Linked DNA regions of Homo sapiens. Changing the gene in region 2 together with the main gene of any one other region gives a genetic interaction. Each region holds a gene or a part of one and is shown on either strand. Other genes may lie near its edges. The genes, in order: PITRM1, PMPCB and GATB.

The links.
Region 1: changes in PMPCB (region 2) and PITRM1 together harm fitness more than expected from each alone (negative genetic interaction), as found in Homo sapiens cells (one large-scale study listed by BioGRID).
Region 3: changes in PMPCB (region 2) and GATB together harm fitness more than expected from each alone (negative genetic interaction), as found in Homo sapiens cells (one large-scale study listed by BioGRID).

What each region holds. Positions count from the first base shown.
Region 1 is NC_000010.11:3,137,222-3,139,655, forward strand, and holds the end of PITRM1 (presequence protease, mitochondrial isoform 2 precursor), read right to left. Parts: intron 1,829-2,434; coding exon 1,683-1,828; intron 1,117-1,682; coding exon 1,014-1,116; intron 904-1,013; coding exon 810-903; 3' UTR 507-809; downstream 1-506. UniProt on the Homo sapiens protein: Metalloendopeptidase of the mitochondrial matrix that functions in peptide cleavage and degradation rather than in protein processing. Has an ATP-independent activity. Specifically cleaves peptides in the range of 5 to 65 residues.
Region 2 is NC_000007.14:103,303,935-103,307,590, reverse strand, and holds part of PMPCB (mitochondrial-processing peptidase subunit beta isoform 1 precursor), read right to left. Parts: coding exon 3,551-3,656; intron 3,181-3,550; coding exon 3,101-3,180; intron 1-3,100. UniProt on the Homo sapiens protein: Catalytic subunit of the essential mitochondrial processing protease (MPP), which cleaves the mitochondrial sequence off newly imported precursors proteins. Preferentially, cleaves after an arginine at position P2.
Region 3 is NC_000004.12:151,719,412-151,723,067, forward strand, and holds part of GATB (glutamyl-tRNA(Gln) amidotransferase subunit B, mitochondrial isoform 1 precursor), read right to left. Parts: intron 128-3,656; coding exon 14-127; intron 1-13. UniProt on the Homo sapiens protein: Allows the formation of correctly charged Gln-tRNA(Gln) through the transamidation of misacylated Glu-tRNA(Gln) in the mitochondria. The reaction takes place in the presence of glutamine and ATP through an activated gamma-phospho-Glu-tRNA(Gln).

The DNA.
Region 1 (2,434 bases), on a different chromosome or scaffold from region 2:
CGCTGGGACCTAGGTTGGAACTCTCCGGAAGACTCCTGCCAGAGTAGACACGGCTGCTGGGATGACAGCCCTGCTGCCCTGGTGGGCCCCCCTCCTGTAGGGACAGCGTTTCTGCCTCTTAGCTCTAGTCTGCAAGAGAGAACAGCTGCGCCTCAGAAATGGGGGCAGAGAGCTGGGTGGAGGGAGAGGAGAGGCCAAAAACAAACTCTGTTTGGGAAATCAGAGTCCGACAGCCAAGAAAGAGCTAGCGCGGAGGCTTTCCTTTCTGGCTCTGTAACGATGAAGCAAGCGCTTACTCACCCCAACCCACTTGCTTCTCAGGACGGTTTCCATGCAGCCGCCGCGGTGAACTCCCGTCTGGTGGACACTCCCCCAGGGCCTCGGTGTGATGGAGTTTCCTGAATCAGCGCAGGCAGACGTGGGACACCCTTGTGCACCTTTTCATTTTACTTCTGTTTTTAAATAAAGGCCCTAAATGCTGCTTAAAATAATGACTCAAGCAGAGGTTAAGTCAGAGTTGCCCTTTATTTTTAGATTCTTAAATATTCTAGAATGAGGTAAAACGAGCCTGCCAGTACAAAGTGAAAATTCTACATGGTGCATCTTTGGCGCTTCATGCATGATTATTTCAATGAACCTCTTCCTGGTCACTCTTAAGATAGATCTGAGTTTTTGACTCGCCAGTCAAGGGCTTTGGCGACACTCAATGACATAATATTCTTGGAAAAAGCAGTAGCATTTCTGACTTTTCATATTCAGCTCGGAGGTGTATTGTCTCGGGCTCCTGTGCAGTCGAGCGCCACGGCTGCTCATTGGATGATCCAGGATGGGTCCTTGGCAATTTTCGGGTTCTCGGGTCCGAGGATGGCCAGGCCGTGTGTGCTCTTCCCAGTGCCGAGGTATCTGAGAGGAAGGCAGGCGTGGTCAGCAAGGACTGGCTTCTGCGTGAGCGCTGTTAGAGTCAGCACGAGGGCTTCCAGTCCCAGACGCTGTCTCCCCCGCTCCCCACTCACCTATCGCTCACGGCCAGGAGCTTGTCGTGGCTGACAGCAAAGAGCTGCTCTCTGTGGGCCTGCTTCATCTCATCCGAGAGGCCGTACAAGAAGTGGTCCATTCCTAGAAGACAATCCACAGGCACGATGGAGCCGCTGCCCGGGAGCTCGCGTTGTGGGCTGTGCACTCATGTCCCGGAGGGGACACAGGCATCTCACTGTCATTTCACGTGCATGTTTCAACCACAGGGATGTGTCTAACAACCCAGAGATCACACCCCGACCTCCAGCTCCCACGTGCCACGCTGACCCCTACCCACGCCTGCTTCTGCAGCAGGGATGCAGTCAGCGCCGCGTGAGGCTGATGATGCTGTGAGCAAAAGCGGCTCCAGAGAGTAACGTGGCCATGCCCGGGCCGTGCCCACGTCCTCCTTCCACCCTAAAGAGCCCGGACACTGCCATGGGTTGGCCCCACTGGGTCTCAGGTCAGTAAAACAAATGACAGGATGCACTCTTCTCGCCCGGATGTCAGGAAGCGTGTTTAGGGTGTCAGACGTGGAAATCGTATCACAAGCAAGGATGGAGGCACCAGAAGCTAGTGCTCCTGCCCATGCATGCCGGGAACTTGGAAAACAGCAACGTCATCTGTGAGGCTGTGGGTTGAGATTCTCACTGTTATACTCAAAATACCTTTGTCTGAAGGAGCGACAGGAGCATCTACGGTTGAGAAGACAGAAAGTTTGGCTTCGTCGATGTCTTGCTGTGTGAATTTTCCAGACTTAGCCCAGTCGACAGCCTTCCCAAAAGACTGGAGCGTCTCTATTGTATTTGGGTCCCTAGGAAACCCAGAGAAATAAACGGGCAAGCATTTTACCAGTGGACAAGTTTATGACAAACCTCTGTCGACTTAACAGTTCAACATCTTCTATGGGTTAACAGCTCTATTTTATATCTGATTTAGTCCAAACAGCCCACTGACAAATCGCTCAATTACTCTCAATGGAAATTTAAATCTGATCACATAAGCCTTTCAACATGTTCTCCCTCTTAGACAAGGTCTGTCTGCACAAAGTCCTCCCTAGATTATTTAAATACACTTCTCTGTGACCTCATCAGGAGAGGAAAGTCAGTGGAGGGTAGGGGCAGGTCAGGATTACAGGGAAATTACAAAGACTTACATGGAAAAATTAAGCAAACAAAGGTTTTCCTTTCATCTCCCTGAAGACACACCCAGGGTAGTACAGGAATCAGCCTGAGGGGGCCAATCCAGACTTCCCTTCGTGTAAATGCAAAGAGCCCAGCCCTCCCTTCACCCTGAGCTGCAGAGGGGCGGCTGTGAGCTGCTTCCCCATCCTTGTCTAGAAGCATGGCTTCCAGCACAGCAAGGGGGAGAACTCATCAGAGTGGCAATGGCTACCTACGTATCTACCTACATGCCTGCC
Region 2 (3,656 bases):
TTGAAAGAAAATATTTTCACATGTATCTAGCAGCAATATAGTTTACAATAAACCCTAGGTGGTATAATGTGATGTACATTACACATGAACTATCTACACTCACTAAAAGCCATTATTTAAGAGTAAGCTCACATAGCACACCTATTTCCTTGGTGTTGCAAAGCTTGAGGTTGCACAGCTTTCTCATTTTGTAGAGCAAATGACAGTTTTCATCAACAGACCAATGGATTCACAGCTAAGAATAAGACAACTTGAAAACTCCACGTTTTACAAAATCATTTTCTATTAAATTATAAAAACCTCTGGGATCCAAACTAGCAAAAAATGCCAATTTTCAAAAAAAAAATTTTTTAGTGGAAAATACAAATATGGGCTCTATCTAATTTTTAAAAAGCTGGAGCTGGGCATGGTGGCTCACGCCTATAATCCCAGTTCTTTAGGAGGCTGAGGTGGGAGGATCATTTGAGTTCAGGAGTTCAAGACCAGCCTGGACAACATAGCAAGACTCTGTCTCAATAAAATAAATTTTAAAAGCCGGGTGCCATGGCTCACACCTGTAATCCCGGCACTTTGGGAAGTCAAGGTGGGCAGGTCACTTGAGATCAGGAGTTCAAGACCAGCCTGGCCAATATGGTAAAACCCTGTCTCTACTAAAAATACAAAAATTAGCTGGGCATGGTAGCAGGCGCCTGTAATAATCCCAGCTATTCAGGAGGCTGAGGCAGGAGAACTGCTTGAATCTAGGAGGTGGAGTTTGCAGTGAGCTGAGATCACACCACTGCACTCCAACTTGGGTGACAGAGCAAGACTCTGTCTCTAAAATAAATAAAATTAAATAAATAAAAGAAAGCTGGATACACAGATAAACTTTATTCTCCATGCTCTGCTATCAGAACTCAGGAACAGGGCCTGGTGTGGTGGCTCACGCCTGTAATCCCAACACTTTCGGAGGCTGAGGCAGGCGGATCACCTGAGGTCAGAGGTAGAGGTAGACCAGCCTGATCAACATGGAGAAACCCCATCCCTACTAAAAATACAAAATTAGTCAGGTGTGATGGCAAATGCCTGTAATCCCAGCTACTCGGGAGGCTAAGGCAAGACAATCAGTTGAATCCGGAAGGCGGAGTTTGCGGTGAGCCAAGATGATGCCATTGTACTCCAGCCTGGGCAATAAGAGCAAAACTCCATCTCAAAAAAAAAAAAAAAAAGAACTCAGGAACAAAATAGTGTCATCTAAATTTCTGAATACATCAATAGGTATCCAAATGCAAAAACTCAGGAATTACTTAGACTCTATATCCCTTACTTGAGACCCAAATTAAGATTCTTTAACTTAATTTACAATTAAAATGTTAAATTATAATTTTATAATAAATGAAGCTAGGATACAAAAAACTATTTGGCAAATAAAAGCTATACATCCTGATGATTAGCCTAGAAGAGATAAATGGTAGCCAAGACATAATTCAGAGGTCAGCAGAAACTTAAAACTGGCCTATTTCATTGAATTTAAGATGCAATCATTTATAAGGCACATCACTTATGTAGTATTTAAAATGAATACTAATTAATCTATAAGCCATTAAACTAAAGATATCTCAATTTTAGCTATGTCAAAATGAACCCATGAACCAAAGTAAAACTCATTTTGTCCACATGCCACCAACAATGGCAGAGAGGTCCCAGAAAGCTTGGTTGTTGAGGACCCATCTAACAAGTCTCTTGTCCCATTTCCAAGGCAGTTTCAAACACTTAAGCCCAAGTCTGCAAGAGCCAATTTAGAAACAATGTTACTCAAGAGAATTTCAGAGTGCACTTCCTGCCATGTACAATGAAGGTAGCTACAATGAATAACATGTTTGATATTTAATGTTTTCATCTTCTCCATTACCCGCCAGGTACTTAGCTCAGAAATCAATCCAGAGCAACTAGAATTTTTAAATTATGATCTCTAAAAAGAGAAAAATTTACAACACGAAAGAACACTTCGCTTTGCTCTAATATTAAAAAATACAAAGAAATGAAAACTGGAGACCAGGTGCGGTGGGTCACGCCTGTAATCCCCAAGTTTTGGGAGGTCAAGGTGGAAGGATAACTTGAGCTCAGGAGATTGAAACCAGCCTGGGCAACATAGTTAAGAATCCATCTCTATTTCTATAAATGTATTTTAAAAAGAAAAAAATAAAAAACTGGAAACCAATTAAAATGTACTGCTGTCTAGATTCAGACTGCCAGGAAATCTGGCAATATCTGTTGTCAATTTTTTTTTTCATTCACTGGCTTCAAACATGACCTCAAGGAAACCTTCTGAAGTCACCTGCATGTTTGGATTCCCATTCAACATTCTTATGGCTCCCTATGTGCTTCTCCTTCCCAAAAATTAGATCTATTAAATGAATGATTGAACAAATCAAAGAATGAACATACCCGTTCCATGCTTGAACAAGGACGAAGTTGGTTCTCAAGAAATAATTTAAAATCTCAAAAAATTCTCAAAGTACAGAACACCATCTTCCGACTCTCTCCCAGTTCACTCCTTTGCCCTTTTCTTGCACGTTCTACTATGTACGCTTATGTATTGAACAGTTCATTAAGTCTTTCTATAAATAAAACCTACTTTTCTTTTTTTTTTTTGAGACAGTCTCACTCTGTCGCCCACGCTGGAGTGCAGTGGTGCAATCTTGGCTCACTGTAACCTCCGCCTCCTGGGTTCAAGCAATTCTCCTACCTCAGCCTCCCGAGTAGCTGGGACTACAGGCGCATGTCACCACGCCCAGCTACTTTGTATTTTTAGTAGACATGGGGTTTCACCATATTAGTCAGGCTGGTCTTGAACTCCTGACCTCGTGATCCGCCCACCTCGGCCTCCCAAAGTGCTGGGATTACAGGTGTGAGTCACCATGCCTGGCCTAAATGAAACCTACTTTAAAAAAAATAGAGGGAAATTCTGATTCCAGTGCTCCACATTCCCCTTACACACTATCAGTTATTTGCTATGTAAATGAAAATTCTTAGGGTATCTCCCAACAGGATCAAACTAATAAGCATACCACTCCAACAACTGTGTTTAAAACATTTGTAGAAATTTAAATTGACTAACCTCCAGCAGCAGCAAGCACTATTCTTGGCCCCTTATAATGTGTGGTTATATAATCCACTAAGTCCTTACGACTTATAGATCTGTAAATGAAGTAAAACAATTTTTAAAGGAAACCAAAAAAAAAACAGATCTTCACATAATATACCTGAAATCAAATTGGACCATAACTGTATCCTAAAATGCAGTCAGAAATAGGATACAGGCAACACATCAAAGAACTTCACCTTTTTTACATCAAAGAAAAAATACACCATTACTGGTTTATTCCCGAAGTACCTATGAACTCACGTGCTTGGGAGCTAGGTGGGACTAAAATGTAGCTAACTACAGTTTCACTTAGATTACCAGGGGGAAAATTACTTTCTGAAACATACTTTTTGAAAATTTGTAAATGTTTATTTTCAACATTCATAAATTCCCTTATACACCAAGAAATTCTGTTATACCTACTTGATATTTTCAGTTGGTCCCAAAATTGTCCGTCCAAGTGCAGTATTTTGATAAGCTGTGGCATGAAGATAATCAAAAACAACTTCTTGTAAATTGGTTTCAACTT
Region 3 (3,656 bases), on a different chromosome or scaffold from region 2:
AAAGTGTACTTACAGGGAGGTCTGCATAGAAGTAGTGCTTCCTGTCAAACAAGGACTTCTTGTTTATGTGGCAGTTCAGAGCCAGGCCTGTCATCACCGCCGCTTCTACACACCTCCTGTTGAGAACCTATGGGAACACAACACACAGTTCCTCTCAGAACCGCAGGCTGAACAAATGCTTCTCCCACACACTGACATCCTCGCTGAATATGCAACTTGGCCCTTCAACAGGCATTATCTCTGGTTCTCTGGGTGGGCAGCTCCAGTTCACAAGCCGAGTCTGTTTGCCTGGGAATCAGGGAAGGATATAAAGAAGAAAATGTATGCAGCAGTGGGTCCCACCGGGCACTTAAGGAACTGCCACATCGGGAACCCTTTCCCCCAGTGCCCGGCATCAAAGCTAACAGGAAGAGTCGCAGAAAAGCTTAGCGGAGTGGTTACTACATAGAATAAATCTAATCTCACTCCCTCTACAAACAGAATAAGGGGCCGGTCAGAATACACAAGAGGCACTGATTGCTGAGAGGAGTCCTGAGGAAGGGTGGCTTCACTTTGACAGAAAAAGAATGAACTTCTGAAAACGACAGGGCCGTAGCCATTTTCTCAAGGGCTAGGAAATGTGGCACAGCTGTTGCCTGGCTTTCTGTCCATGCCAGGCCAACTCCCTAAAAGTGGAACGCCAACGGAGGGCCTGTCCCACACACTGGACGACTCCGTGCTGCTGGTCTCTCTGGGGGCACCTGGTGCTCCAGTTCCCTCTGGGTGCCACCCTGTCCCACTTACAGGAGTGAATGACCAAGAAATGGCTGGCACACTTCCCAGCACCAAAGAATGTCAAAGCTTTTAAGAACACTGGGGGTCTGGAACTAGACAACGAGATAATGTAGCCAAGGAGAAGGAGCATTAAGTTCTCGAGTCAGGTTCAAATCCCACTTCTGCTGTGACTAGGAGTCTCAGTTTCCTTGTGTCTAAAAGTGGGATTTAAGATCTACTTTGCAGAACAGATAAAGTGATAGCTGGAACACCTCCCCTAAGGTAGAGATTCAATAAATAGTTCATTTCCCTACTCTACTTTGGGACAATTTTGGAGGATGTCATGTTTGCAGATGAAATATATTTCTATTTTTGTTAGGATATTTATGATGTTCTTTAGTATATTTAATATACTATTATTGATATAGATAGGGCCTTCTAGTTGAGCATTTCCACATCCACCATTTTATTTCAGCCTCACAGCAACGCTGTAAAATAAGGAATCTGCATTATTCCAATATTTCAGATTAAAAAAACAAAACTAAGACCCAAAGAGTCTAAAACATTTGCCCAAATTCACAGAACTGGCAAGTGGTAAAGCTGCCTGTAAAGCCCACACATGCCGTGGCTGAGAGGCGGCAAACAGAACTTCTGTGGTTCAGGGACTGGCTCTTTAGGCTGGGATGACGAGTGTAGACCAAACACAGATTTTAAAAACAAATTTCTACAACAAAATGGAAGGGGCATTTCTATTTACTGCAATATACGGTCCCCAAAGAAAACCCAAACAAGGGCCAGGCGTGGTGGCTCATGCCTGTAATCCCAGCACTTTGGGAAGCCAAGGCGGGTATATCACGAGGTCAGGAGATCGAGACCATCCTGGCTAACACAGTGAAACCCCGTCTCTACTAAAAATACAAAAAATTAGCTAGGTGTGATGGCAGGCACCTGTAGTCCCAGTTACTTGGGAGGCTGAGGCAGGAGAATCACTTGAACCCGGGAGGTGGAGGTTGCAGTGAGCCGAGATCTCGCCACTGCACTCCAGCCTGGGCGACAGAGCGAGACTCCATCTCAAAAAAAAGGAAAAAGAAAAGAAAAAAAGAAAACCTAAACAAATCTCCCGCCTAGTGACAACATCACACCCTTATTTTTCAGGACTCAGGTTATAAGATGGAGCCATTTCACAGTTTCTATTTGGAGTTCTTCATTCTGTGCCTAATAATGTCAGCTCTGCAGCAATAAAGGTTTTCAAGAAAAGATGTGTGGGGAACAGGAGGCTCTAATTATTGATGTTTTCACTTGCCTAATGTCTGGCATTTTACTGAGCGGTTGTTACTGAGATACAAACATAGCTGGTGGAGAATCCCGCCAAATCCAAGCCTGATGATTCGGGTCCAGGCACACAGAACATGAAGCTGCAGTCCCGACCCTGGGCTTTGCTCTTCCTGGGGTCAGAATGCAGTCAGCCAGGGCTGGCTCGTAAACTGCCTGACTCCTGGTCTGCACCAGTTCTGCCTCATCATTCCCTCTGCTTTCCTAACCACTGCTTTCGCTCTCATTTCAAGCTTCTTTGCCCCTGGGACCAAGCTGCTTCCTCCTGCTAGGCATGAAGAGAACCCAGGTTATTTTGTTTGTTTATTTTCAAGCACGCACCATAGCCTCCCTGTGGGAGAAGAGTTGAGGACCATCACAGACTCTCACTGTGTCCGTGTGCACACAAGCGCACGGGCACTTCATAAACCACCACTTTCCAGAGAAGAAGGCAGTAAAACACACAAACATTACAGTGATACTGAGAATATGCTTTAATCTTTTTTTGATGATTTAGAAGCCATGAAGTACTTCAAGGTCAGAATTATAAGCATCAGTCATCACACGTTACAGATGCACAGAGGGCCCAGTAAACAGAGAGTGTCAGTTAGAAGAATGCCAAGAAAAAAAGGAATTTCCTAGGATCTTAGTCAAGCTGCTTGTGACAGATGGAAGTCCAGGTCAGCATGTTCTGAGGATAGGATACAGAATGGGAAAATTCAACTTGGGCTGTCTTCACTCTGAAAAAAAAAATTCTTAAATGTCTATAAAGCACTAAACTTTAGGGGTACATAGATAAATAGGACTCTGTCTCTGCCCTCAATGAATCCGCAGTGGTGACATGAACCTGCCAGCATCTGCAAACCCTTTTCAAGTTTGTCTTTCATACTAGGGTGATCCTGCTAAAATTGTGGATCTGTGGCATTCTGTTACCTGAAGTCCCTCAATGGCCCCTGATGTTCCCACGACAAAGGCCAAGCTCTTACATGATCAAACTCCTGCCTACATCTTCAATTTCATCTACCACCATGTCCCCCCACAACACCTCTGCTGTAGTTCCTCTGTGCAAACCGTGCTGATCTTCTGATTCTCCCCATTCTTATTCCCTTCAAAATCCTAGTGGGACGTCACCACTTCTGTGAAGCCTTCCTTGTTGTCCTTTCTGTGTACCTCTTCTGACCTTCTACACACTCCCATTGGGGCTTCCATCACAGTGGATTGAATTTGTTCACATGTAGTTCCACACAATTGCACATTTCATGAGGACGGGAATTGTCTGTTCACCCTTGTATCCCTGGAGCCTAATACAGAACCTGAAAAATTGTGGTATTTGATTAATGTGTGCTGAGCTCAAAGGAGGAGGGAGGGGATGATATCAATGGACGATTTCAGAGAGGCAGTGATGCCCCAGTCTCCTCTAAGGTGTTACCTGCCACATGCTGGCCTGCAAACTTGTTTCTGGAAGTGCCCTGAAGTGACAACTGATTGTGTGTGATACGATCAAGATGTAATTTAAAAACTAAAAAGACTAACTTGGCTTGAAGAAAGTATGTTCCAGAATTTCTCTGTAATTAAATGACTACAAAGGATCT